Homo sapiens: one gene and its partners. The protein of the gene in region 6 interacts with the protein of the main gene of each other region in a biochemical or structural test. Each region holds a gene or a part of one and is shown on either strand. Other genes may lie near its edges.

Region 1 (3,500 bases), on a different chromosome or scaffold from region 6:
TCATGTCTGAAACCCTCTGGCACCAGCCCAGTGCTCTGAACAGAGGTGTTCAATTAATATTAAAGAAAACAATTTTTTAAAACAAATCTTCCTTCATGGCCAGGCACGGTAGCTCATGCCTGTAATCTCAGCACTTTGGGAGGCTGAAGCGGGTGGATCACCTGAGGTCAGGCATTTGAGACCAGCCTGGCCAATATGGCGAAACCCTGTCTCTACTGAAAATACAAAAATTAGCCAGGCGTGGTGGCGCACACCTGTAGTCCCAGCTACTTGGGAGGCTGAGGCAGGAGGATTGCTTGAACCTGGGAGGCGGAGGCTGCAGTGAGCCAAGATTGCACCTCTGCACTCCAGCCTGGGTGACAGAGTGAAACTCCATCTCAAAAACAAAAACAAAAACAAAACATTCCTTCATTATCCTAACCATCCCTTGTCTCTCCTCTCCTCTACCCCTCACAACTTTGTAGGAATTACAGAAGGCTTTGAATGTGTGTGTGTTTGAGTCGCTGAGATATGCTGTCACCTGACTAAACTCCTAAAGGTAGGAATCTTTCCAAGATTCCTCACTCTGTCCACGTGGTACCTGGCACAGGGCTGACACTTCCTAGAGTGGCTACTTCTACTTGAAGGGAACTGAGAAGGGCTACATTTGGCCCAAGAGCTAGCTAGACAGCCACATGAACAGTCTCTTGCCCTTCCTTCTGGAATTCTGAGTCTCATCTGCCCCTTATCGACCATGTGCAAGCCACTGCCCTCTTCCAAGCCTCAGTTTCCTCAACTAAAAAAAAAAAAAAAAAAACCTGGCCGGGCGAGGTAGCTCACGCCTATTAATTCCAGCACTTTTAGAGGCTGAGGCAGGCGGATCACCTGAGGTCCGGAGTTCAAGACCAGCCTGGCCAACATGGTGAAACCCTGTCTCTACTAAAAATACAAAAATTAGCCGGGCATGGTGGTGTGTGCCGGTAGTCCCAGCTACTTGGGAGGCTGAGGCAGGAGAATCACTTGAACCCAGAAGGCAGAGGTTGCAGTGAGCCCAGATTGTGCCACTGCACTCCAGCCTGGGCAACGAAGTGAGGCTCCATCTAAAACAAAAAAACCCTGCCAGTCCTTCTCTTAAGACCAATGAAACACGAACGTGGCAAAGATGTGCAGATGCGTTATAAACCATAAAACCCTACACCCATGTTGATTTTAGTCAAGCTAGTCATCCCTAGGAGGAGATGCCCCAGTTCCGAGGGAAGGCAGAGCTGCTAGGCCTGCTGCCTCGGGCATGGCCTTGGTGCCAGAGCTCACCTCACAGAGAACGATCCCAAAGGAGAAGATATCCACCGTCTCATCATAGCTCTTTCCTTGGGGAACACAGGAGAGCACACTGTTAAGTTTACATCCCTTACCTGCTCTGCACTGGGTCTAGGGTCAATCTAAGCCACAGCTAAGAACTAGGGCTAGAACAGGTTCTGTAGGGACACCCCACAGGCTGTCCTGCGCAGACACCACCTGAAAATAGTCCTTCCTCAGCTGTAGGTGAACTGCCTTGGAGAGCCCTTATAACATAACACTGCCTAGGATGAAACTGCACGTTAAAGTGGAAAAGAACCAGACTAGGGTTCATCTAGCCTCTGCCATTAGGCAGCTGTATGCTCCTAGGCAATTCACTGAACTTCTCTGGGCCTCAGACTCCAAAATGGATTGTATTCAGACCATTTCTGAGGCCTCACAACCCTGATTTCAAGAATCCCAACCAGCATCTCTGGTTGGTTTGAGCATTATCCACCAGAGGGCACCACACTTCAGTTCTCACCATGGAGAGAGAAGGCTAAAGCTGGGACAATAGCCTGAGCTCTTAGCGATCCCTGAGGCACAAATGCCACAGTCAGAACTCACCTTATCCCCCATGATGGGACACTGATCAGTTCCCAGCCCCCTGAGCTCAGGAGCTAAATCGTGAGGCCCCACCTGGCAAGGGAAAAATATCCTCAGCTCTGGGTATCCGGTCCTACGCTTCACAGGCCTCCCCTGGAATTCCCAGGGCTCTGATGCAAGGGCAGCATCTGTCCTCCCTCTGCGGGTGTCCCCTCCAGGGCTTCAGGACTCACCGTTCAGCATCTCAGGGGCCATCCAGTAGGGGTTTCCCACCACCGTGTAGCGCTTCTTGCGGTCGTTCTTGCGCAAGGTGCGTTTCTTGGTGGTGGCCTTCTCCATGGGGGCCCTTTTCCTCTCTTCCACTATGAGCCGTGACAGCCCAAAGTCTGCCACCACCACAGTCTTGTCCTGGTAGGATAAAAGACAGGTCAGGACTTCATGGGGATGTTCTCAAACCTGGCCCTGGGGAGGAAGCATAGGCAAGAGAAGCCACTGAGAAGGGGAGAAAAGGTGTATAGCAAGGGAGAATCAGAGCAGAAAGCTCTATCAAATAGACACACTCAGGCCAGGCACGGTGGCTTCCACCTGTAATCCCAGAACTTTGGGAGGCCAAGGCGGGTGAATCACCTGAGGTCAGGAGTTCAAGACCAGCCTGGCCAACATGGCAAAACCCCGTCTCTACTAAAAATACAAAAAAAAAAAAAAAAAAATTAGCTGGGCGTGGTGGCACACGCCTGTAGTCCTAGCTACTTGGGAGGCTGAAGCAGAAGAATCACTAGAACCCGGGAGGTAGAGGCTGCAGTAAGCCAAGATTGCACCACTGCACTCCAGCCTGGGAAACAGAATGAGACTCCATCTAAAAAACAAAACAAAACAAAACAAAAAAACAGACACACTTGGCATTTGTGTTTCTGAGGGTCTGGTATCTGTGCACAGCAGACTCCCAGCCCACAGTGGGTTCATGGCAGAGCCACTGGAGCCCTGGAGGTGAGGCTCAGGGACTTGGAGAGTGGAACTCAGAGGTGGGACAGGGGGTTGCTTTTGTTTTTCCCTGTCCTGTCTTATTCCTAAAATGATTTCAGGCAGTGGCTAGAACCAGGATAAGACAGAAAAAGGCAAGGTGGAGGCAGTAGATGGGGAGACTTGGGGGAGACAAGCTCTTTGAATAGCTACAGGGCAGTCATGTGGGAAAGGAATGAAGATTGCGTGGTGTGGGTCTAGAGGGCAGAGCCAGGGCCAGCCGGTAGACACCCAGGAAGCCAGATAGCAAGTCAGTAAGACAAACAACATTGTAACCACCACAGCTGAGGGGCAGTGGGAGGAATGCTGGTCTCAAACTGGTCCCTGTAAATTTACTAGCTCGGTGGCCTCAGGCTGAGGCTTCAGGTGCCACCACTGTAAAATGGGGTCAGCAATGAACTGTTTTACAAGACTACTATGGGGCAAAAGCAGGTAAAATGACAGGGTTTTCTACATATAGTCAACAAACTTCTGAAGTCCCTTCTAATCAAATTATTTCAAAGGTTGCTAATGAGAGAAGGTGAAATTATGTCTGTGTGTGTCTCGGAGCTCCCAGAGGACAGAGAAGGGCATTGGAAGAAGCAGGAAGGGAAAGATAGGAGCTCCTAGGCAACACCTCT
Region 2 (3,500 bases), about 14 Mb from region 6:
CAGTCTGGTCTCGAACTCCTGACCTCAGGTGATCCACCCGCCTCTGCCTCCCAAAGTGCTAGGATTACAGGCATGAGCCACCGCACCAGGCTGAAAGTACATTTTTAAGCAGTAAAATCTAATAACACAGTTAACCAGAAAATCTTTCCAACATTCAGCAGTACTAGTATCTTGCATTCTAGGAACCGGAACATTCCTTTACTAACTGGCTTTTCCATTAAAGCTGCTGATGCCTAGAGTAATAAAAACACGACTGCACTGGACAGTGTTCTTAAAGTTCACATGACTGGGATGCTTCCCAGAAAATAGCTCCATTATCTTCACATTTTCATCCTATAATAATTTGTAATCCAGGAAGGCAAGGTTTGTATTTTCTTCTAGGCAGAAAATAAGTTAAAGAACCAGACTGTATGGATCCCAGAGCCTGACCCCTTGACCGAGTGTCTGGTCACTTGATATTACAAATCTAGACTTCCTGATAAATGGCCCTGTAGTGACCTTGTTACTGGGATCCCTAGATGCTGGTTTCCTGCCTGGTTTCTCTGCATCCAAGTCCCTGTCTGCATCTACTGTCCATCCAATGCCCATCCTCTTCTGCCTGGGTCCCCAATGCCACCTGCTTCCCTGCCTTTGCCAAAGGTCAGTGACTTAGTCATCATCTCAGAACTAGGGCTGGAACAGGGATGTGGGCGTTGGTGCAGGAAGAAGAGGTGGAAGTGTGAGCACTAGAGGAAAGAAGATAAGGTCTAGGGTGACTCCCGCCTCCTGCCCTTCTTTGCTTACACACCCTGGCTCTTAAATTCTATTAGAAATTGGTCAGTGGGAAGCACAGCTGGCTTGTTCATCTCCCTGTCCATCTATCATAAACTCTGTCCCTGCTCCTCCATCCAGCCAGGGTATGTGAGTGACGTTCCAGACTCTGCCAGTCCTTGTGGCAGACAGGTACCATAGTGAGGTGAGAGCTGACAAAAGGCCGGTGTGGCAGGCACAAAGCTGGGAGTGGCATCCTACTGGAGGTGGGACCACAGAGGTGTGGGGACCAAAGCCACAAACATCAGGCCTGCAGGCCATGCAGAGGTTAGTTTTGTCTTTATCCAGGTAGAAGATTCCTAGTGCTAGAGGGTTTTCCATGCTGGCTCACCCTGCACTGATCTCAACCTCGAAGTCACTCTTAAATCCGGACGTGACCACACGTCCGGATTTACCTAGGGCAGTCCCGGCTTAGACCCGTCAGTCATGTGCAATTATTAATAGGACCCCTTTTTATTCTCAAATTGTTCTGGTTGGGATGATAAATTCTAGTTGCACTGTTCTTGGGGGCCTAGGCCTGTGAAGTCAGTGCTGCAGTTAGAGAAGTCTACCCATGATTAGCAGGGACGCCCAGCCTGATGAGTCTCACCCCTCATCAAACATTCCATTTGCCTCTCCAGTATCCCTGCCAAACCATCATCTGGCTTCTGCTTGTATATCTGCAAGGACAGCAGGCTCACTATCTTCTCAGGAAGCCTCTCTTTTTTGGGGAAAGCTTTGTTATAAAAATAGCAGGATTCAAACCTGTATACAGTATGACTGCAACTAAATAACAACATCCAGGCCGGGTGGGGTGGCTCATGCCTATAATCCCAGCACTTTGGGAGGCCGAGGTAGGTGGATCACTTGAGGTCAGGAGTTCTAGACCAGCCTGGCCAACATGGCAAAACCTCATCTCTATTAAAAATACAAAAAATTAGCTGGGCGTGGTCGTGGACACCTGTAATCTCAGTTACTTGGGAGGTTGAGGCAGGAGAATCACTTGAACCCAGGAGGCAGAGGTTGCAGTGAGCCGAGATCGCGCCACTGCACTCTAGCCTGGGTGACAGAGCAAGACTCCATCTCAAAAAAAACAAAACAAAAACAAAACAAAAAAAACCCCACATCACTCAGCAGGGAAAGGCGTGGGGCTGGAAGAAAGCAGAAAACCTGCTGACTTTTCCCCTTGCACCTCCTTCCATCTCTCCCTCTCCTCATTCAACAAATATTTACTGAGTGCATTTGATGGTCCAGGGACTGTGCTTGGCACTGGGGACAAAATGGTGAGTTAAAACAGACTCAATGTGAGGGGCATTCTACAAAATAATTGGCTTGTACTTTCCAAAAACGTCAAGGTCTGGCTGGGCATGGTGGCTCACGCCTGTAATCCCAGCACTTTGGGAGGCCGAGGTGGGCGGATCACCTGAGGTCGGGAGTTGGAGACCAGCCTGACCAACACGGAGAAATCCCGTCTCTACTAAAAATACAAAAAATTAGCCGGGCGTGGTGGCACATGCCTGTAATCCCAGCTACTCAGGAGGCTGAGGCAGGAGAATTGCTTGAACCCAGGAGTCGGATGCTGCAGTGAGCTGAGACTGAGCCACTGCACTCCAGCCTGGGCGACAGAGCGAGACTCCATCTTGGAACAACAACAACAAAAAAAGTCAAGGTCCTGAAGGACCAAGAACAATTGGGGAACTGTCTTAGTTTAAAGGAAACTAACGAGACATGACAACCGTACGCAACCCATTTATAAGAGTTTTTTTTTTTTTGCTATAAAAAAGGACATCACTAAGACAACTGGCAAAACCTAACATCTAGGCCGGGCGCAGTGGCTCGGGCCTGTATCCCAGTACTTTGGGAGGCTGAGACAGGCAGATCACTTGAGGTCAGGAGTTCGAGACCAGCATCCAACATGGTGAAACCCTGTCACCACAAAAAATACAAACATTAGCCGGGCATGGTGGCACACGCCTGGAATCCCAGCTACTTGGGAGGCTGAGACAGGATAATTGCTTGAATCCAGGAGGCGGAGGTTGCAGTGAACTGAGATCACACCACTGCACTCCAGCCTGGGTGGCAGAGTGAGGGACACTCTCTCTCAAAAAAAAAAAAAAAAGTATATAAAACTTGAGGTTTATAGATTAAACAATGTTGTATCACTATTAATTTATTGATTCTAAAATTTGTATTGTAGTTACGGAATATCATCGCTTTTAGGAAATATATGTAGGGGGAAAGGAGGCATTGATAAATAATCCTCAAATGGTTCAGGATAGATATATATGTACACAGGGATAAAATAAAAAGAATAAAATGGTAATGTTTGGGGAATCTGGGTGAAGAATTTATGGGACTTCTTTGATTTATTCTTACAACCTTCCTATGGGTCTGAATTGTATCAAAATAAAACATTAAAAGAAAAAAAAATAAAACTTAGAAAAAGTTTTTTTAAAAAAGAGACCCTGCCTTCACACAGCTTACAGTGTAGCCGGGAGACAGGTACTAATACAAATAATTACATTAATTAACTGCAAAATTGCCACTAGGAAAAGTGCTATAATGGAGAGAGATCTGGTGGCATGAACATTTATAGCAACAATTTAACTCAAGTCAGGAAGGTGAGCAAAGGCTCTGCAATCATGGAGCTGAGACCCACAGGATGAAGTAATCAGTGGGGAGGGGGAGAAGGTCCCAGGCTCTTGCAGTCC
Region 3 (3,500 bases), on a different chromosome or scaffold from region 6:
TAAAAGTACAAAAAAAAAAAAATTAGCCAGGCATGGTGGTGCACACCTGCAGTCCCAGCTACTCGGGAAGCTGAGGCAAGAGAATCCCTTGAACCTGGGAGGTGTAGGTTGCTGTGAGCAGAGATTGCACCACTGCACTCCAGCCTGGCGATAGAGCAAACAAAACAAAACAAAACAAAAACAAACAAAAAAAGAAGACCTCACCCATCCAGTCTTAAGGGTGCCCTGAAGCAATTTCCCAAAACTCAGAGCTTCCCAGGGTGATGACTAAAGAAGCAAAAAAGGCCGCTGCTTGGATGGAAGGACAAAGCCCAGAGCTGACCCCAAGGCGTGGGGAGACCCCTCGGGACTTGGCTCCCCCGGGAAGTGTGAGCCCCCAGGACCTGCTGCCCAGAGGCGGGCACAATAACCGGGTCATACTCACAGTTGCGCCTGCTTCTCTGCTAGTTCTTTGGTTTTCTCCTACAATTACAAAGCGGGAGAAAAAGCAAGTGAGCAAAACAGGCTAACACAGGGACGCGTTCAAATACACGATACCATCGACAGGAAAACAAGCCATGCTGCCCCAGGCATCCTGTGTGACGCTGACTATTTATTCAAGCTGTGCTGGAAAGGACATTTTCCATGTGACTTCAACATCTTCCCATTCCATTACCGACTATGACCTACAAGTTTGCTACAATAGAGTATCTCACAACTCTCTAGCTTACATAACAACCGGCTATTTAAAAAATAGTAGAGGCTGGGCAAGGTGGCTCACACCTGGAATCCCAGCACTTTGGGAGGCTGAGGCAGGCAGATCACTTAAGGTCAGGAATTCGAGACCAGCCTGGACAACATGGTGAAACCCCATCTCTACTAAAAATACAAAAATTAGCCGGGTGTGGTGGCGCATGCCTATAATCCCAGCTATTTGGGAGGCTGAGGCAGGAGAATCCCTTGAACCTGGGAGGCAGAGGTTGCAGTGAGACGAGATCACGCCACCGCACTACAGCCTGGGTGACAGAGCGAGACTCCGTCTCAGCAAAAAAAAAAAAAAAAAAAAAAGAATTATTCTTGCCTTAGTAGTAAGTTATTATCCGGCTGAATGTAACCGTGATGGCTGAGTGCGCGTAGACTAAGCGTGTATATTTGGTAAGGAATGAGGACGGGGCAGCGGCGACACAGTTGCACATTCTCAGGAAACAAACGCGCAAATGATATTCGCATGGGATCTGGACAGCACCCAGCGGAGGCTTCGGATTCCCACAGTGGGTGCAGGGGGAAGAGGTGGACTCAGGCTCGGTCTCATGTCTATCAGCTCAATCTCTGGACCAGGCAATTCACCTCTGGGAGCCTCTGTTTCAGAGCCTGTAGCATAGGGGCAGGGTGAGCCCTGGTGTGCTGCAGGGAGTGGGCCAGCCACACAGCGAGCCCCAGGTGGCTGGGACACAGGCTGGGACCCGGGTCCCTCAGCAAGTGACTTACGGCCCCCTGGCTTCAGTTTCCCTGGCTGTGACATGGGGTGTGGCATCTACATCGTCAGGGTGGTTGTGATAAAGAAATTAAACAGCGTTTGGTTTGCAAGTAAGTGCCTGGCGCAGAGGAGACTCGGGAAATGACAATGATCGTGCGAAAACCCATGACTTCTGGCCAGCAGGTAACTCTCGGTCACAGTGGCCACGATGTGGACACACACTACAGGGACATCACCTGGCCCTGTGTCCATGACTGCACGGAGGGGACACGGGCACGCTGCAGTGGCACTCCCATCAAATCCCAAGCCGGGAACCCGAGGGGAAGAGGCACGGACACCCAGATTACAACACCCACGGTGCACAGAGACGGCTCCCACTGACATCTGGACAGGGAAGCCTGAGCTGGCTTTTACTTTTTAAAAGTCTCAGACATTTAAAATGTGGATTTCGATATGAGAAAGTGATAAGGTTTCTACACAGTCAAGTGGTTCCCCCTTCCCCTGTCTGCCGGGGATAAGCGGGGCCCAGACTAGCGAGGATCTGAGGGTCTCTGAACGAACTTGAACAACTACGAGTTGTCCTTCGGGTCCCTGGGAGCCAAGTCACTGTGGGGTGGGGCCCAGCGGGGGGCCATGACTGTGTGATGCCTGTTCCAGCACTCATGGGCCCAGGGCGGTCCTGCTCACTGGCGGCCACACTGGATTCCTGGGGACATTGGCAATGCCTGCAGCCATGGGTGTATTGCGTGTGTGTGTGTGGCGGGGCGGCAGAGGGTGACCGGCATCTAGGGGTGGAGGCCGGGGATGCTGCTGAATCCTCTGCAATGCACAGGCCAGCCTCACAGCAAGGAGCTCTCCTGCCACAGTGTCCACAGGGCCGGGGATGAGAGAGGCTGGCCTGGAGGAAAGTTCGTCAACGCACAAAAGGTGACGGGCCCTGCACCTCCAAACTCGGATCAGGGATGGCTCCAGCGGGTATGTGCTCAACCGGCCCCTGGCAGCAAGCACAGGGCGCCGGCACACACAGGGGCTTCTGGGGCTCTTGGGCAGGGGCCTGTGAGAGCTATCAATGTCACCTCGGCCTCGTGGTGCCCAGGCTCAGGGGCAGCTCACTCCTGGCACGTGACAGTGCTGGGCCCAGCTGGACCCCAGGGAGGGTACAAGCCCAGAGCTCAGGAGGTGACCTAGGACCCCACGCAAACCCCACCCTCAGGGGCAAAGGGCTGCAGCTGACACCTTGGGTTCTGGGGCTGCTTCTGGTGGCCTGTGGGGCTGGGGGGCAGCGACAGGCAGGGAAAGGCCGCCCTGCGCTCAGCAGCACAGCACCGTGGGGGTCAGATAGAGGCGCTCCCGCCTCCCAGCCGGGGCCAGCTCCGGGCCCCCTCTTCCCCCAGACCGGCACAGGACCCAGACCGCCCACCCCAGCACACTGACCCAGACAGTCTCGCGGATCAGCCTGGCTATCTTGAGCAGGAGCTGCCCGAATGTGCCCGGCTGGAAGTGGGTGGCCGAGTGCTGGATGCAGAGGCACAGGAGGAAGGCGGGGGTCAGCTTGTGGTCGTCGCCCCCCGGCTCGATCAACGTCATGATCCTCTGCAGCAGCGTGTCCTCCAGGTGGGGCTCAAACTCCAGGAGCAGCTGCTGGCGCCGGGGCAGGGCGGCCTGAGTAGGGGAGGCGGCTCCCCGGGCCCCGAGCGCGGCCCCGCACAGCCGGCAGCTCTGCGGCACAGCCCGGAGGCGCGCCAAGGCCCGGGCGGGCAGGGGCTGGGCCTGCGCGGGGTCCTTGAATAGCAGCAGGTAGTAGAGCCCCAGGGAGAGCAGGTCCCCGTGGTGCAGCACCACGGTCCTGTGCCCCACCTCGGAGAAGTTGACGGAGATGTGCGCCCCGGGGATGGGCTCCAGGACCAGCCTCCCCGCGGCCTGGCCGCTGTCCGGGAGCGGTTGCCGGCGGATGGTGCAGTGTAGAGGCAGGATGTCGGGGGCTGAGAGGCTGATGCTGGGCTTGCTGGAGGGGGTCCGCTGGCCCACCGTGTGCCGGTCCCGG
Region 4 (3,981 bases), on a different chromosome or scaffold from region 6:
AAAAATAAGTTTTAGTAACCATCACAATACATTCATACAATGGAAAATTACACAGCAATGAAAAAGAACTGTTTCTACAAGCAACAACATGGATGAGTCTCAAGACATGATCCGAATGAAAGAATCTGGTCACAAAACAGTACACACTATGATTCCATTTATATGAAGTATTAGTTCAAAACAAATCTATAGTGACAGAGGTGGTGAGGGAGGTTACATCTGTAAAAGAGTAGTGCTAGGAGAAAGCACAGGGAGCATTCTAGGGTACTGGGAATGTTCTCCATCCTGATGTGAGTTGTGATCATACAGGTACTCATTCTGTAATATTTCATGGACTGAATGAACCTTTGATTTGTCAAACCTCAATAAAAAAGTAATCCCACACAAAAAAAGCTTTCGGTGACCTTAAAGACATCAGTTTTGGGAAAGCATAAGTGAAGAAGCCAAACCATATTAGAAATGTATACAAGGTGAGGAAGCTAAGACACTGAATACAAACTCATTTTTCAAGAAGGTTGTTGGGGAAGCAAAGAAGAGATAACAAAGTAGTTTGGGTAGGTTACACAATTCAGGGAAATTATGTTGTTTTGTTTTTATTTGTGATATAAAACAAAGAGAGTAACAAGGGTCTAAGGCAAACAAAAGAGGATGAAATCAAGGACATAAGTAGAGAAATTAGCCTCGGAGAGGAGGATGAGTACTTTTCTCTGAGACTGAAGCTAAGGATGAGAAAACACAAAAATCATAAAATAAAGAGGAGGGAAAAATCAAGTAATCTTGAACTCTACCATGAAATACGCAGTAAGGTCAACTGGACAGGTAAACTGAGACAGGAAAGGACCTGGACTTGAAGTTCATTGTACAAGTTTTGACTAGATGATACTGCAGAGAATGTAAAAGATAAGTATTAGGCACATGGGGGAGTAAATTGCAGCAAGAGGACAATGCTCAGCAGCTAGAAGCGGGGCAGAGATGGTCAATGGTGCAGTCTCCTCAGGGCTCAGTGGGGAATAAGAGGTGGAAGAACAAAAGGGGGGAAAAGTCCAAGGGCTACCTAGCATGGTATATAATTTTTAAACTGTCTAAAGGGCCGGGCACACTGGCTCATGCCTGTAATCCCGATTACCTGAGGTCAGAGTTCCAGACCAGCCTGGCCAACATGGTGAAACCCTGTCTCTGCTAAAAATACAAAAAAATTAGCTGGACATGGTGGTAGGCACCTGTAATCCCAGCTAGCCGGGAGGCTGAGGCAGGAGAATCGCTGAACCCAGGAGGTGGAGGTTGCAGTGAGCCGAAATAATGCCACTGCACTCTCCCCTGGGCGACAGAGCGAGACTTCGTCTCAAAAAAAAAAAAAAATGTCTAAGGAAAATGCTAATTTATCTGAGAGAAAAGAGGTAAGAGACCTATAAGAAGTCTTAAAACATTCATGGATGAAGTCAGTAGGATCCCGAATAGAGCTGAACAAAAGGAAAGCTGTCACTAGAGTTCATTACTACAGAACATTTTTCTGTAAATCCAACAAGACCAAGGATTACTTATTCTCCTTTCACTAAACTTATTACCGCTACTAGTGGCAGCTTCTCCTGCCTGATAAAACTGACCTTTATCCCCTACTCATAAATACACCTACTCTTGACTAATAAATTACATAAACATATCCTGTTCATTCAGAAACTCCATGAATATTTGTATGCTGCTGTGTTTTCCCAGTAATGTGTTTTCAGTGGAAAACTAGCAGGCAAACCATATATCTACGAATTCTGTTCACAAAATTGGGCTTAACACTGCTCACATGCAGGTGTTTCACAAGTGCTTTCTTGTGAAATAGATGGTTGGTAAAGAGAGCCTTAACAATGATTGTGAACACACTGGTACAAAAGTATAATGATGGCCAAATCAGAGAATGCTTGGGAGTGTCATCCGTTTTTACAATTTTAAGGACAACCTCTAGAAAACAGGATAACACTACATCAAATTGACTTACATCTTACTCTATTTACTCCTATGGATAACTCCTCAACGCCTCTTTAGTAAGCCTACTCGTTGCAGCTCACACACTCAGCCCACATTCCAGCGTCCTTTCGCCCCATCCAGAACCCCTGACTATCTCTTGCACCAATTTTTCATTCTTCTACACCCCCATTTCCAATACAACCCCAGGCCACCACTTCCATTTCTCCACTCCCCATTTCTCGGCCTCCCCAGACCTCCCACTCCTCCCCGCGAACTACTCAGACCCCACCCCTCCAAAGCTCCAGCCCGGGTCCTCCCGCCGAAGATCCCCTCCCCCACGGCTTCCATTCAGGTTCACCCTCCCGGATCCCAACCCGCCCTACCTGCTCCTTGCCCTCGGGCCCCGCGGGGCCCGTCCGCTCCTCCAGCCGCTGCCTCCCGGGCGGCGCTCGCCGGCGCGGCGGCAAAGACTGAGACAGCTCCGCTGCCCGCTGAACTCCATCCTCCCGGCGGTCGGGCGGCGGCGGCTGCGGTCGGTCGCGGCAGCGGCTCCGCTTCATATCTGCAGCTGGGGCCCGCGGGCGTCAGCGCCGCGACTGTCCCGGCTCCGCACTGCCCCGGGCCGCAGCGCAGCCGCGCCAACCACCACCCGCGGCCACCATGGCCGGACGGGCTCCCTAAGCCACCGACCCCAGCCCGCGGCGCCTTCGAGCCTTCTGGGGCCTCCGGCGCCGCGACCTCCTCTGCGCTCCTCACGGAAGAGACAGCATCGCTGACGCCTCGCCTTCTCCCACCCAGCACACGTTGGGCAGGCCACCCGCCGCCGGCTCAGCCGCCTGCCTACAGCCAGCCTTCGGCCGGCCCCGCCCCTCACGCGCGCGCACCGGGAGCCCGCCCGCCACCTCCGGCCGCGCGCCGCCTCCCGCGCACGCGCCAGCGAACGGTCGCAAAGGACCCGCCCGTGGCCCTGGCGCGCAGTCGGAGGACCAGAAGCGAGCGGGGCTCTCGGCGCGCCGTCAGCGGCTGCGGACTCCCATTGAATCTTTCATTCATCCATTCATGAAACTGCTGGGCCAAGCTCAGTGCTGGGGACCCAAAAATGAGTTCGAGTCGATCGGTGTCCTCAAAGAACTAGGGAGAGAGGGGCCGGGAGCAGGAAGGAGACAGAATAACACAACTAATGAATAGAAGGCTAATGCATGCTTTTTTATTTAGTGCCTGCCAACTCTCACCTAATTCTCACATCACACTTAGGAGGCAAATCTGCGCATTCTCATATTACAGATAAAGAGACTGAGGCGAAGTGAAATGCACCAGGTCACCCAGCAAATCAGTGATCAAACTAGACGGAATTCTGGCTCTTCTGTCCCTTTCCACCGTGTTTGCTCTTTCCGGACAGTAAGACAGTGTGGAAACGCCTATAAAAGTGGAAAAAGTGATGGATTCCTTCTGGGAGGAGGAGAGGACAAAAAAGGCATACAATGAAGTCATCGTGTAGAGCCCAGCCCAGTCTGCTGTGGCCTGGGTAGCCTGACCTGCTGCCTGCAGTGACTCATCTGCTCAGCAACATGTGGTGGTAGCTCAGCTCTGGCCTCCCTCTGGCTTCAGCTGGTCTGCCACATGTTGTGTTTTTCCTCTTTTGACCTAGAAGCCTTGCTTAAAGCCTTCACCCATTTGTCCTGGGCCTCTTCCCTGACCCCTTTCTGAGTAATAAAAATAGCCAACACTATGGAGTGCCCACTGCATACCACACACTGTGCATTCAATTCAGACATACACAAACAAGAAGTAAGTTGTATTTCCATTTTACAGTTGAGGAAATAGGCTCAAATTACATAATATGCTCAACATCACACAGCTTATAAGTCCAGAGCCAGGACTCAAACCCAGGTCTGCCAGATCCGGACAGAAAGACAGTGCGGAAACACCTATAAAAGTGGAAAAAGTGATGGATTCCTTCTGGGAGGCCGGGAGGATGCACATAACCAATGTGCTCTACGGCCTGTCACCAGCCTGCTCCTCTAT
Region 5 (2,465 bases), on a different chromosome or scaffold from region 6:
TGGGGTCCACTCTGACCTCAGACTCTTCATCTTTCTATCTTTCTCTCTCTGTTTACCCTGCTGCAATCCCCCTCACCCCAACGTCCGCCGGCCTGGCCCAGGACAAGCATGCGCTCCTGGATGTGACCCCCTCCGCCATCGAGCGCCTCAACTATGTGCAGTACTACCCCATTGTGGTCTTCTTCATCCCCGAGAGCCGGCCGGCCCTCAAGGCACTGCGCCAGTGGCTGGCGCCTGCCTCCCGCCGCAGCACCCGTCGCCTCTACGCACAAGCCCAGAAGCTGCGAAAACACAGCAGCCACCTCTTCACAGGTTGGGGGGTGGGTGTCCCAGGGTAGGCGGGTGGGCCCCAGCCTGAGTCTCCTGCACACACTGACGTCCCCTCCCTGCAGCCACCATCCCTCTGAATGGCACGAGTGACACCTGGTACCAGGAGCTCAAGGCCATCATTCGAGAGCAGCAGACGCGGCCCATCTGGACGGCGGAAGATCAGGTACTGCCGCGGTGTGGGTGGGTCGGGCAGGGAGGCCCCACAGACGCTGTGCAGGCCCAGCTGGGGTTTGGGGCCTCTGTCGGGAGTTAGGGCTTGGTCAGGGATCAGGACTGTGGCCAGAGTCAAGATGGGACCTGAGACAAGGGTGTTGGACTGGAACTTGGGTGAGATGAGATTGGAGGAGCTGTTTTTTGTTGTTTGATTTGAGATGGAGTCTCATGTCACCCAGGCTGGAGTACAGTGGTGTGATCTCAGCTTGCTGCAACCTCCGCCTCCCGGGTTCAAGTGATTCTCCTGCCTCAGCCTCCCGAGTAGCTGGGACTACAGGCGAGCGCTACCAGGCCCAGCTAATTTTTGTATTTTTAGCAGAGACGAGGTTTCACCATGTTGGCCAGGCTGGGCTCAAACTCCTGACCTCAGGCGATCCACCTGCCTCAGCTTCCCAAAGTGCTGGGATTACAGGCCTGAGCCACCGCGCCCAGCCTGGAGGAGCTGTTTTGAGAATGGAGTCAGTGGGGCACGGGAGCTCACGCCCATGGTCCCAGCTACTCAGGAGGCTGAGGCAGGAGAATCACTTGAACCCGGGAGGCAGAGGTTGCAGTGAGCAGAGATTGCGCCACAGCACTCCAGCCTGGCAACAGAGACTCCTTCTCATAAAAAAGAGAGAGAGAATGGAGTCTTCTCTTGGGGCTGGAGTCAAGGTTTGGGGCTCAGCTTGGATTTGGGGGCTGAGCCTCTCAGGTGAAGGGTCAATGGATACAACCCATCCTGGAGTCAACAGAGAAGCCTCCACTGAGGCTCCAGGCTCCAGGCTCCTCGCCTTGATTTGGGACCAGAGTTTGAAGGTGGGGGGATGTCGTGGGTGGCAGCTGGGGTCCTGGCCAGGGCCAGCCGCAGCATCCACACCCACCCCACAGCTGGATGGCTCCTTGGAGGACAACCTAGACCTCCCTCACCACGGCCTGGCCGACAGCTCCGCTGACCTCAGCTGCGACAGCCGCGTTAACAGCGACTACGAGACGGACGGCGAGGGCGGCGCGTACACGGATGGCGAGGGCTACACAGACGGCGAGGGGGGGCCCTACACGGATGTGGATGATGAGCCCCCGGCTCCAGCCCTGGCCCGGTCCTCGGAGCCCGTGCAGGCAGATGAGTCCCAGAGCCCGAGGGATCGTGGGAGAATCTCGGCTCATCAGGGGGCCCAGGTGCGTCGGACATGGGGGGCAGGCCTGGGAAGGGTCTCCGGAGGGGATGCCAGCACAGAGCAGACACACACTGGGAGCCTGTTTTCTACCAGGACGTCAACAAACACGGCTTCCCTGGTCAGACTGGTTTCTGGGACTCAGACCTGGGGTAGCTGAGACCCACGTGGCACTGAGTAACTTGCAGCATTTTTTTTTTTTTTTTTTTTTTGAGACGCAGTCTTGCTCTGTCGCCTAGGCTGGAGTGCAATGGCGCAATCTTGGCTCACTGCAACCTCCACCTCCCAGGTTCAAGCGATTCTCCTGCCTCAGCCTCCTGAGTAGTTGGGATTACAGGCACCTGCCACCATGCCCGGCTAATTTTTGTATTTTTAGTAGAGACGGGGTTTCACCATTGGTCAGGCTGGTCTTGAACTCCTGACCTTGTAATCCACCCGCCTTGGCCTCCCAAAGTGCTGGGATTACAGGCATGAGCCACTGCACCCAGGCTTTTTTTTTTTTTTTTTTGAGATGGAGTTTCGCTTTTGTTGCCCAGGCTGGAGTGCGATGGCGTGATCTCGGCTCACCACAACCTCCGCCTCCCAGGTTCAAACGATTCTCCTGTCTCAGCCTCCTGAGTAGCTAGGATTACAGGCGTGCACCACCATGCCTGGCTGATTTTGTATTTTTAGTACAGACAGGGTTTCTCCATGTTGGTCAGGCTGGTCTGGAACTCCAGCCTCGGCCTCCCAAAGTGCTGGGATTACAGGTGTGAGCCACTGCACCCGGCC
Region 6 (4,225 bases):
GTGGATAAGGAGTCTACCCAGGCCTTTTTGGGTTCCCTCCTTTGGTCCCTGGGGACCCAGGGCTGTGGCACTTGCCCCGGGCTAGAGGGTCGGCCAGGGCCTGTGTGGTGCCCACTGCTCCCTCCCCTGCACTGCAGGGGACCCTTGCCCATCCCTCTAGCTCATCTGGACCTCCCTCAATGGCTCCTGCTGTCTTTCCAGGCTGTGTCCTCCCGTGTCAGGGACACATCCCAGAGCCCAGGGCCTGCGTGGGCTGTATCCACGGTTACTGAATAGGGACAAACAGGCATGTATTGGCAGGGGCCGGTGGCTCATTTCAGGAAAGTCCCTTCAGCAAGAGGATTCTCTCCCCACTGGGGCTGAGGGTGGTAGAAGAAAGGAATGTTGTTCTATGTTGTAGTGTCTCTGAGATGACCTGGCTTCCTGAACCAGGTCCCCCTGAAGAGCTCCTCCTGTCCACCCCAACAAGAGGCCAGCTGGAGAGCAAGCAAACATCGAGTGCAGCAGGAGACTATAAGGTTAGACAACAAGAAGGACTTCCTGGCAGGGGAGAGCAATGCTTGCTTGGTTAGAGCTGCCTTTCAGTAGAATGGGCTGCTTTGGATTGCAGTGAGGTCGCTGGAGTTGCAAACAGCAGAGCCAGAGATCAAGGTCAAGTGGAAGAAAGCTGGGAAAGGTTCAGTTTGGCTGGTGAAGGGTGGAGAGGGTAAAGGGAGGCAGGGACCACCGTGGTGCAGGGGTGAGGTGCCCTGCAGGGAGCTGATCCTGAGGCCGATGGTGGGAGGAGCTGTGTGTGGTCGGGTGGGACGGGGTGGGGACAGCAGGAGACACTGAGAAGGTGGCATGGCCAGGAGCTAGGGGCTGACCGAGTGTGGGGAGGGGGGAGTGGGGAGGGGGCGTTGGGCTGCCCGATGGGAGGTGCCTTGGCTCCGATGGGAGCACTGGGGAGCAGCAGGTGGGGGGACGAGCTGGGTGGGAGGGGCTGCAGCTTCCCAGCAGAGACAGGGTCTGGGAGGCGACTGGACTCGAAGGCCTGGGCTTGGGAGAGAGGCCCGGGCTGGAGAGGTGGGGAGGGGGATCCAGGAGAGGGGATAACTAAGGACTTGGGAGTAGCTGGCATCACCTGGTGAGACGAGAGTCCTGAACAGCCCCCTCTCCAAGGACAGAAATTTCTCCAAGGAGGCTGACCTGAGAGGTGGGAGGAGAGTGGGGCAGAGGGTCAGGAGGGAGAAACCAGTGGGTGCCAAGACCAGGTCAGCCCCACAGGCTAGGGGGCTTGAGGACTTGGGGCTGATGTCTAGGGACGTCCACGAGGTGGAGCAGCCCAGGAGGCCTGGGTGGGAGGAGGAGGCGGTGGCGGGGAGGGGAGGGAGGGGCTGGGCCTCTGTCCACAGCATTAGTGCTGGTTGGAGGGACGAGGGGGGTGCGGAGCCAGCCAGGCCGCCCTCCCGTTCTCACAGCAGCCGAGCAGAGCGCAGAGCGGGCTGCCATGGCGCTGGCCAGGCCTGGGACCCCGGACCCCCAGGCCCTGGCCTCTGTCCTGCTACTGCTGCTCTGGGCCCCTGCCCTTTCCCTCCTGGCTGGTGAGTTGGGGCCCATGTCTGGAGGGGCCTGGGAGAGGGTCTGTCCCCCAAGACAGATACCCCAAGCCTTGGCTGCTGGGGTGGTGGGTGGGCTGGTCCGCGTGGGTGCAGGCCTGAGCTGTGGGGTGCACAGGAGTGCGCGGCTGTGGCCCCCAGACTCTGTGGGGCTCCACGGAGGTGAGTGTGTTCTGAGGCTCGGGGCTGTTTCATGTTGAGGGGGGTTGTAAGTTTCGGGGTTGGGGGATCGGGGGCTGGGCATGATTTGGGGGAGCTGATGCGGGTGAGGGATGGGGTGCGTGTTTTGGGAGGTGCTGTGTTGCATCCTGTAAAGGGCTGGGGGACTTCTGGGTTTCTAGGGGCTGAGTTTGGGGAGTTGCAGGTGGCATAAGCCTCACCCCAGAGCTTGTTCTGTGTCGCATGCTGGGTTGTGGGGCACAGGTTGTGGGTGTGTTAGAGTTGGGAGGTGGATGAGCTGTCTGGGGTGAGCCGTGAGTTGTGTCCGAGGAGTTGGGTGTGGTGAGCTGTGTCCTAGCACACGCTGTGGGGTGTAGGTTGTCCAGGGTTGAACTAGGTCTTTGCTCTCAACATGAGGGGTGTGGGATGTGCACAGCCGACCCCAACTCGGGACTGAGTGGAGAAGCGTGAGGGAGACTCAGGGAGCTGGGTGCCTGCCCGCACCCCTCCATTTGTGCGGTAGCCCTGCCTGTGCTGAGGGCTGCTGGGGATGCTCTGGGTCCCTGTGGGGTGGCTGGGGATTTGGGAACATGTGTGTGTCCCCTGCTGCCCCCTCCCCAGCATTCCAAGGCCAATCTGAAAGGGCTCCCTGAAGCCAGACCACATTTGCCAAGCCCTTTTTGCTTTTGTCCAAGCTCTCGGAGCCTGGAATTCCTCCTGGGGGGTCCAAGGGAACGCTTGGTGTTAGTTACTATAGTTACAGGGGCCGGGCCTGGGAAGTCCCCTGCCCCCACCACCACAGGCTGGGGAGGGAGCCAAGGAGGGCCTGGGCTCTCCTGAGGCTGGGGGAGCCCTCCCTGCCCCAGAGCTCCACAGGCTGTAGGGTGTGGGGGCCAAGTGTCTCCCAGTCCCACCTGGGGACCCTCATGTTTCCCGCACTCACAAAGCTTTCATTTCCTATCCTCTCTATGGGGCCCTAGGGAGGATGAGGACCCCATTTTGCAGTGAAGGAAACCAAGGCTCAGAGAGGGACGGGGACTTATGAGCTGGGCTCTGCTGGCAGGCGACTTGGGCTCCATAGAGGGGTGGGGCATGGTGGCGGGGGGCGGGGTGGCTGCTCCTCTCTGTTCTCTGCATACAAAGCACGTGAGATCCCGGTCTGTGGATCGGTGCTCTGTCCCCTGCCCTGTGATGCTCACACACCCACACTCCGCACACCTGTGTGGCATGCCCAAGGGCACACAGCACCACAGGGACAGGTGCTACAGACACATGTGGATCTACCAGCACATGCACCTACCTACACACATGGCATGTGCCTGCACACCAATGTGCACACCCCAACACGCACATGTGGACATGTGTGCATTCACACTCAGTGTGCACTCACAGGGGACCTGGAGGCACAGAGTGGATGGAGGCTGTGGGGGGTCTGGACACTGGTGTGTACACTCAACCCATCAGGCCTGCTGGGTTGCCCAGGGGCAGCCTTTCCTCTGCCATTTCTGTGCTGGGAGCGCCATCCCTGGGGATCCCTAAAAGTTGGTGGGGTACACTGCAGGCATGACCATTTCTGCATGCTGGTACCCTAGACTGCCTGCCGGGAGGGGAGGGATTGGGGATTTTGTCACTTGAAAACCAATTTCCATCCTGGAGGGGATGGGGGCTTCTGGAGGCCATGGGCCCCTGGCTTTTCTCCCCACCCCTGCCAGGCCCTGAGCTGGGCCTCTCCATCCTGGGCCCAATTTGCCACAAAGGCCCGGCTGGTTGCCATGGAGAGGACCAAGCATCTTGGAGTACAATGGGGCACGTTGGGCTCTCATATCCACCCTCCCTTCCCCAAACACCCAGGGAGCCCAGCAGACAAAGGGGCAGTGAGTCCAGGCCCCAAGTCCGGCCCCTCCTCCAGCCAGAAGGGGGTGGGGGCCTGCAGGACAGAAGCAGAGATGGAGCAGAAAGCCACACACATTCAACCCAATGTCAGGATCCTTTGGACAGTGGGTGTCTGCCTCAAGTAAAGAATTGTTAATGAGTAAGATCAGCCACTCCATGGCAGGCACTGTGCTATTATTAACGAGGTCTAATTTAATTCTCCCAACAGCCTATGAAGTCAGCTCTGATACCCCTAGTTTACAGAGGAGGTAAACGAGGCCCAGAGATGGCCAGTCCCAGAGCCAGGAAGCCCCAGAGCCAGTGCTGGGATTTCACAGTACACTGTGCTACTTGCCTAGGCAAAGTCACGTCTCTTCTCTGTCTCTACAAAACGAGGACAGACTGGCTTACTCCGAGCGCTGGTATAAGGATTGGAAGAGAATGCAGTGAGCGGTTCCCCACCCCAGGTTTTGGCATGGAACCCCCAATTTCAAGGGAAATTTTAGATGGAAGCCCATGAATAGTTAATAGTAAAATTGTTAAAAGTGGCCTGTTTGGGTGGCAGGTGGGGAACCCCACCTGCTCTGTCTCCCCCT
Region 7 (3,368 bases), on a different chromosome or scaffold from region 6:
GGAGGGCACCAAGGGGCAGAGCCCAGCGAAGTGGAGGGGAGGGGTAAGGGAGGCAGGCCTCCAGGAGACAGCGTGGGCAGGTCCCCAAGGGGGCCTTGGTGGGTCGGCAGAGATGGTTCCGGCCCTGACCAGGAGGCCTGTGTCTGCTCAGACTGTCCACCCGTGATCGTCCAGAGGGGCTGGGGGTCCAACCCAGACAGGGTCACACAGCAAACAGGTAACAGACCCAGGGTGAAAAGAACAGACCTCTTGACTCCTCATCTGTTCCCTCAAATGGAAGAGCACTTTTCTGGCCTCCAGGGACCCCAGGTTGGAGACAGATGGAGGTGGGAGTGGGTGCCCCGTTTTCCTGAGACCCCTGTGAGAACTGGGCCAGGCAAAGCACATCCCCAGCCCTGGCTACACCTGCCCGCCCACTCCATCCCAGGCACCACTCACTAGACCACCAGGGGAGGCCCACACCCTTCTCAAAATGAAGAGGGTCTCTGATTTGTGGACACTGAGGACAATGATTTTAAGGGATGCTGGTGCTTCCAGATTTCAAGTGGGAATAGACTTCTTTGAATAAGCACTTTGGACACCCTCCACTGGGCAAGAGTGTCCCATCTTTTTCTCTGGCCCATTTCTCTCCCATCTCCCTCCCTCTTTCTCCTCTTCCTCCACTGATCTGGCTGTAAAGAGGAGCGCTACCGCCTCACAGGTCCTGCGTCCATCGCTTTTCAATTTTCACTGGATGGCAGGTGAATGGAAGCTCCAGGGTCTTTTGCCCCAAAATGACCCCTCCCACATGGAGGGGCTTGGGCTGAGCGGACGTGCAGATGGGTCAGTGGCCACACGGCCTACAGAAGAAGCAGGAGGGCTGAGAGCCCAAGGCCCATAGAGCCTGCCCAATGGGCCCAGAACCACAGTCTCAAGTCCCAGAAGCTTCAGACTGAGATGCTGAAATCAAAGAATCACCCACTTTCAGAATCAAAGGGCCAGCACTTCCTGGGATCCCAGACGCCCCAACTTAAGAGTCTCATAAGTGGGGACCAGATTCTGGGAATCTCAGAATCTCAGGACTAGCAAGCCCCAAACCCCTATTCTGGAGAAGCGAAGGAGCTGGGCTCCCATCCGAAGCAGCATCCTTCCTGGTGGCCGAGTCTCTAGATGAAGTGGCTCCCCATCAGGAAGCCAACCCCCAAGCGCGTGTGCACGCATCATGGGAATGCCTCATACCCCAATGCATGACTGCGCTGGGGTATCCAGCTCCTGCCTGCTCACCTCCTGTGACCGAGAACTCACTCCTCCTTGCAGCTCATTCCAGCTCCATGGCTTTGCTGGGAGGAAGTGCTCCCTACATCTTCGACCTCTCCAAGGAGGCCCCACAGAGACCTGGGACAGCCCCCAGGCCTCTCTCCTCTCGGCTGAGCAGCCTGTGCCAACCCTTCTTAAGGGAGGCTCCTCTGGGCATCTTGGAGACCCAACTTGGCGAGAGACCCCAGCTGTCACTCCAACTAGGGCAGGACCTCCCTGCCTGGCACCCCAGTCACCACAGACCTGGGGAACAGAGACCAAGCATCATCCCAGGCTCAGAGTCTGCCAGACCAACAGATGAATGAGTGGGTGGCCGCTTCTCCAGCCCAGCTACGTGTCTGGGAGCCAGGATCTGCCTGGGTGGCCCCTTAGGAGTTCGGCCCACATGCTGACTTCAGAGCATCCGGGGACTGCTGGGGCCTGGCGATCGGGGGGCCCGGCTGCTGTGTGCCGTGTGCGGCTTGCGGCTGATGATCAGCTCCAAGACATCACCCGCCTCGGCCAGGAGTGGCACCGCCAGGCAGCAGTCGAAGTCCCGTGTACGGACGTGGTTGACCTGCATGGGGCACAAGCAAGGGAACAGAACCGAGATGTCAGCCCTGCTGCGCTGAAGGGAGCAAGAGGCATGTGATGTCCTAAAGATGGGTCCTGCCCCAGCCTTGACGCAAGCCCTGACATCACCAGCACCACACACAGAGGAACATTCTTCCTCTAACTCTCTCTCAGTCCTTCTGTTAGGTTTCATCAAAGAGAAAGTTCTAGGAAGGGGCAGGTATACCTTTCATACCCCTCTAACTCTTGCTTTTCTCCCTTTCTCACATGAAAGAGCAGACCACACACTCAGAGAGCCTCCTGCCTAGAACTGTGTGATGTGACATTGTCTTCTTTCTATTTTATTTGCATTTTACACCCACTTTCTATTTCAAAGCAAGGGGTGCAAGATTTTCACTCCTAATGGAGACAAAAAGTTTCCTTTCAAAGTCAAATGTAAATTGAAAAAGTGCCATCAATTTAGAGAAAACATGAATTGAGTAAATTTCATATAAATATGGCAAAAAACACACTGAGGGAGCAAAAATAGCCAGGGCATGAGAAGGGGCGGCACGGAGTGCCCAGTACACGATGTCCCACGCTTCCCAGGCTCCCTCACAGTTAGTTAGGAAGGTCACATGAGGGGTTTGGTCCATCGGCTGTGAAGCAAGGTGATGAGTGTTGCTTCTGGGTGAAGGCGGAAAAAATCCACGTGTGACTTTCCAGTCTGTCTCCTCTGCTGTGGAGTCTGAGGAGGCCACGTGTCTCAGAGGGTCAATTCCAAGATGGGCGGATGCTCCATCAGCCCGGGACAAGAAGGCCCCCACCAGCCCACAATGGGCATGGGGTGTAAGAAGAAAGGTCTGTGTGTGCTCAGCCTCTGAGGCTGAGGGTGCTGGGGCCCGCAATGCAACTTTGGCTAACCTGACTCAGACTTGCATTGTCCTGCCCTCTTCACAGGCGATAGATGCAGGCTCTTTCCCCACCCTCAGGCTAGGAAACAATGCCACCCCCACTATGGAGCCCCTGCCCCAGCATTACCTGCAGGACCCTGTCGAAGGGCTGGAGGCCTCCACGGTGGGCTGGCCCATCAGGGCGCACAGTGTGGACATAGACACCTTTTTCCAGGAGGCCATCTGAGACGCTGAAACCAAAGTCATGCCGCATGGGGTCCTTGTGCAGGGTCACCTGGAAGCAGAAGGAGGAGGAGGTTCCTGGAACTCTGACCTTTGCCCCCAGCCTCTCACAGTAGCCCAGGTCCTTTGGTCTGGCATTCAGCGCCTCTGGCCAGCCACACCCCCCAGGCTGCAGCACCCCAGCCTCTTGCCCCTGGGCCTTCAGCCACCCCCGCCACCCCGCTCCCTGCCAACCTCCCTCAGCAGATGCTCCAGGCCACAACACTCAAGTACGACGGAGCCCTTAGGAGTGACTTCCTTTCAGCCCTTTCTCTGTCCTCTGGCTCTATCAGGGAGGAGGCCTGGCCAGGGCACTGTTACCTCCCCTGACCGTCACTCATTCCCATTTACCAAAGAGCTGCTCAG

What was found.
Region 1: the proteins of CRB2 (region 6) and LIMK2 interact in a test that uses a peptide from one of them, tested with the Homo sapiens proteins (one large-scale study listed by IntAct).
Region 2: the proteins of CRB2 (region 6) and PTPN3 interact in a test that uses a peptide from one of them, tested with the Homo sapiens proteins (one large-scale study listed by IntAct).
Region 3: the proteins of CRB2 (region 6) and RADIL interact in a test that uses a peptide from one of them, tested with the Homo sapiens proteins (one large-scale study listed by IntAct).
Region 4: the proteins of CRB2 (region 6) and MAST2 interact in a test that uses a peptide from one of them, tested with the Homo sapiens proteins (one large-scale study listed by IntAct).
Region 5: the proteins of CRB2 (region 6) and TJP3 interact in a test that uses a peptide from one of them, tested with the Homo sapiens proteins (one large-scale study listed by IntAct).
Region 7: the proteins of CRB2 (region 6) and GRIP2 interact in a test that uses a peptide from one of them, tested with the Homo sapiens proteins (one large-scale study listed by IntAct).

Annotation. Positions count from the first base shown.
Region 1 is NC_000022.11:31,271,298-31,274,797, reverse strand, and holds part of LIMK2 (LIM domain kinase 2), read right to left. Parts: intron 2,269-3,500; coding exon 2,094-2,268; intron 1,347-2,093; coding exon 1,291-1,346; intron 1-1,290. UniProt on the Homo sapiens protein: Serine/threonine-protein kinase that plays an essential role in the regulation of actin filament dynamics. Acts downstream of several Rho family GTPase signal transduction pathways.
Region 2 is NC_000009.12:109,488,308-109,491,807, forward strand, and holds part of PTPN3 (tyrosine-protein phosphatase non-receptor type 3), read right to left. Parts: intron 1-3,500.
Region 3 is NC_000007.14:4,831,717-4,835,216, forward strand, and holds part of RADIL (ras-associating and dilute domain-containing protein), read right to left. Parts: coding exon 2,891-3,500; intron 463-2,890; coding exon 425-462; intron 1-424. UniProt on the Homo sapiens protein: Downstream effector of Rap required for cell adhesion and migration of neural crest precursors during development.
Region 4 is NC_000001.11:45,802,431-45,806,411, reverse strand, and holds the start of MAST2 (microtubule-associated serine/threonine-protein kinase 2), read right to left. Parts: upstream 2,801-3,981; 5' UTR 2,517-2,800; coding exon 2,340-2,516; intron 1-2,339. UniProt on the Homo sapiens protein: Appears to link the dystrophin/utrophin network with microtubule filaments via the syntrophins. Phosphorylation of DMD or UTRN may modulate their affinities for associated proteins. Functions in a multi-protein complex in spermatid maturation.
Region 5 is NC_000019.10:3,746,384-3,748,848, forward strand, and holds part of TJP3 (tight junction protein ZO-3), read left to right. Parts: intron 1-101; coding exon 102-312; intron 313-392; coding exon 393-493; intron 494-1,410; coding exon 1,411-1,698; intron 1,699-2,465. UniProt on the Homo sapiens protein: TJP1, TJP2, and TJP3 are closely related scaffolding proteins that link tight junction (TJ) transmembrane proteins such as claudins, junctional adhesion molecules, and occludin to the actin cytoskeleton.
Region 6 is NC_000009.12:123,354,772-123,358,996, forward strand, and holds the start of CRB2 (protein crumbs homolog 2 precursor), read left to right. Parts: upstream 1-1,425; 5' UTR 1,426-1,489; coding exon 1,490-1,583; intron 1,584-4,225. UniProt on the Homo sapiens protein: Apical polarity protein that plays a central role during the epithelial-to-mesenchymal transition (EMT) at gastrulation, when newly specified mesodermal cells move inside the embryo.
Region 7 is NC_000003.12:14,491,975-14,495,342, forward strand, and holds part of GRIP2 (glutamate receptor-interacting protein 2), read right to left. Parts: intron 3,016-3,368; coding exon 2,869-3,015; intron 1,853-2,868; coding exon 1,691-1,852; 3' UTR 1-1,690.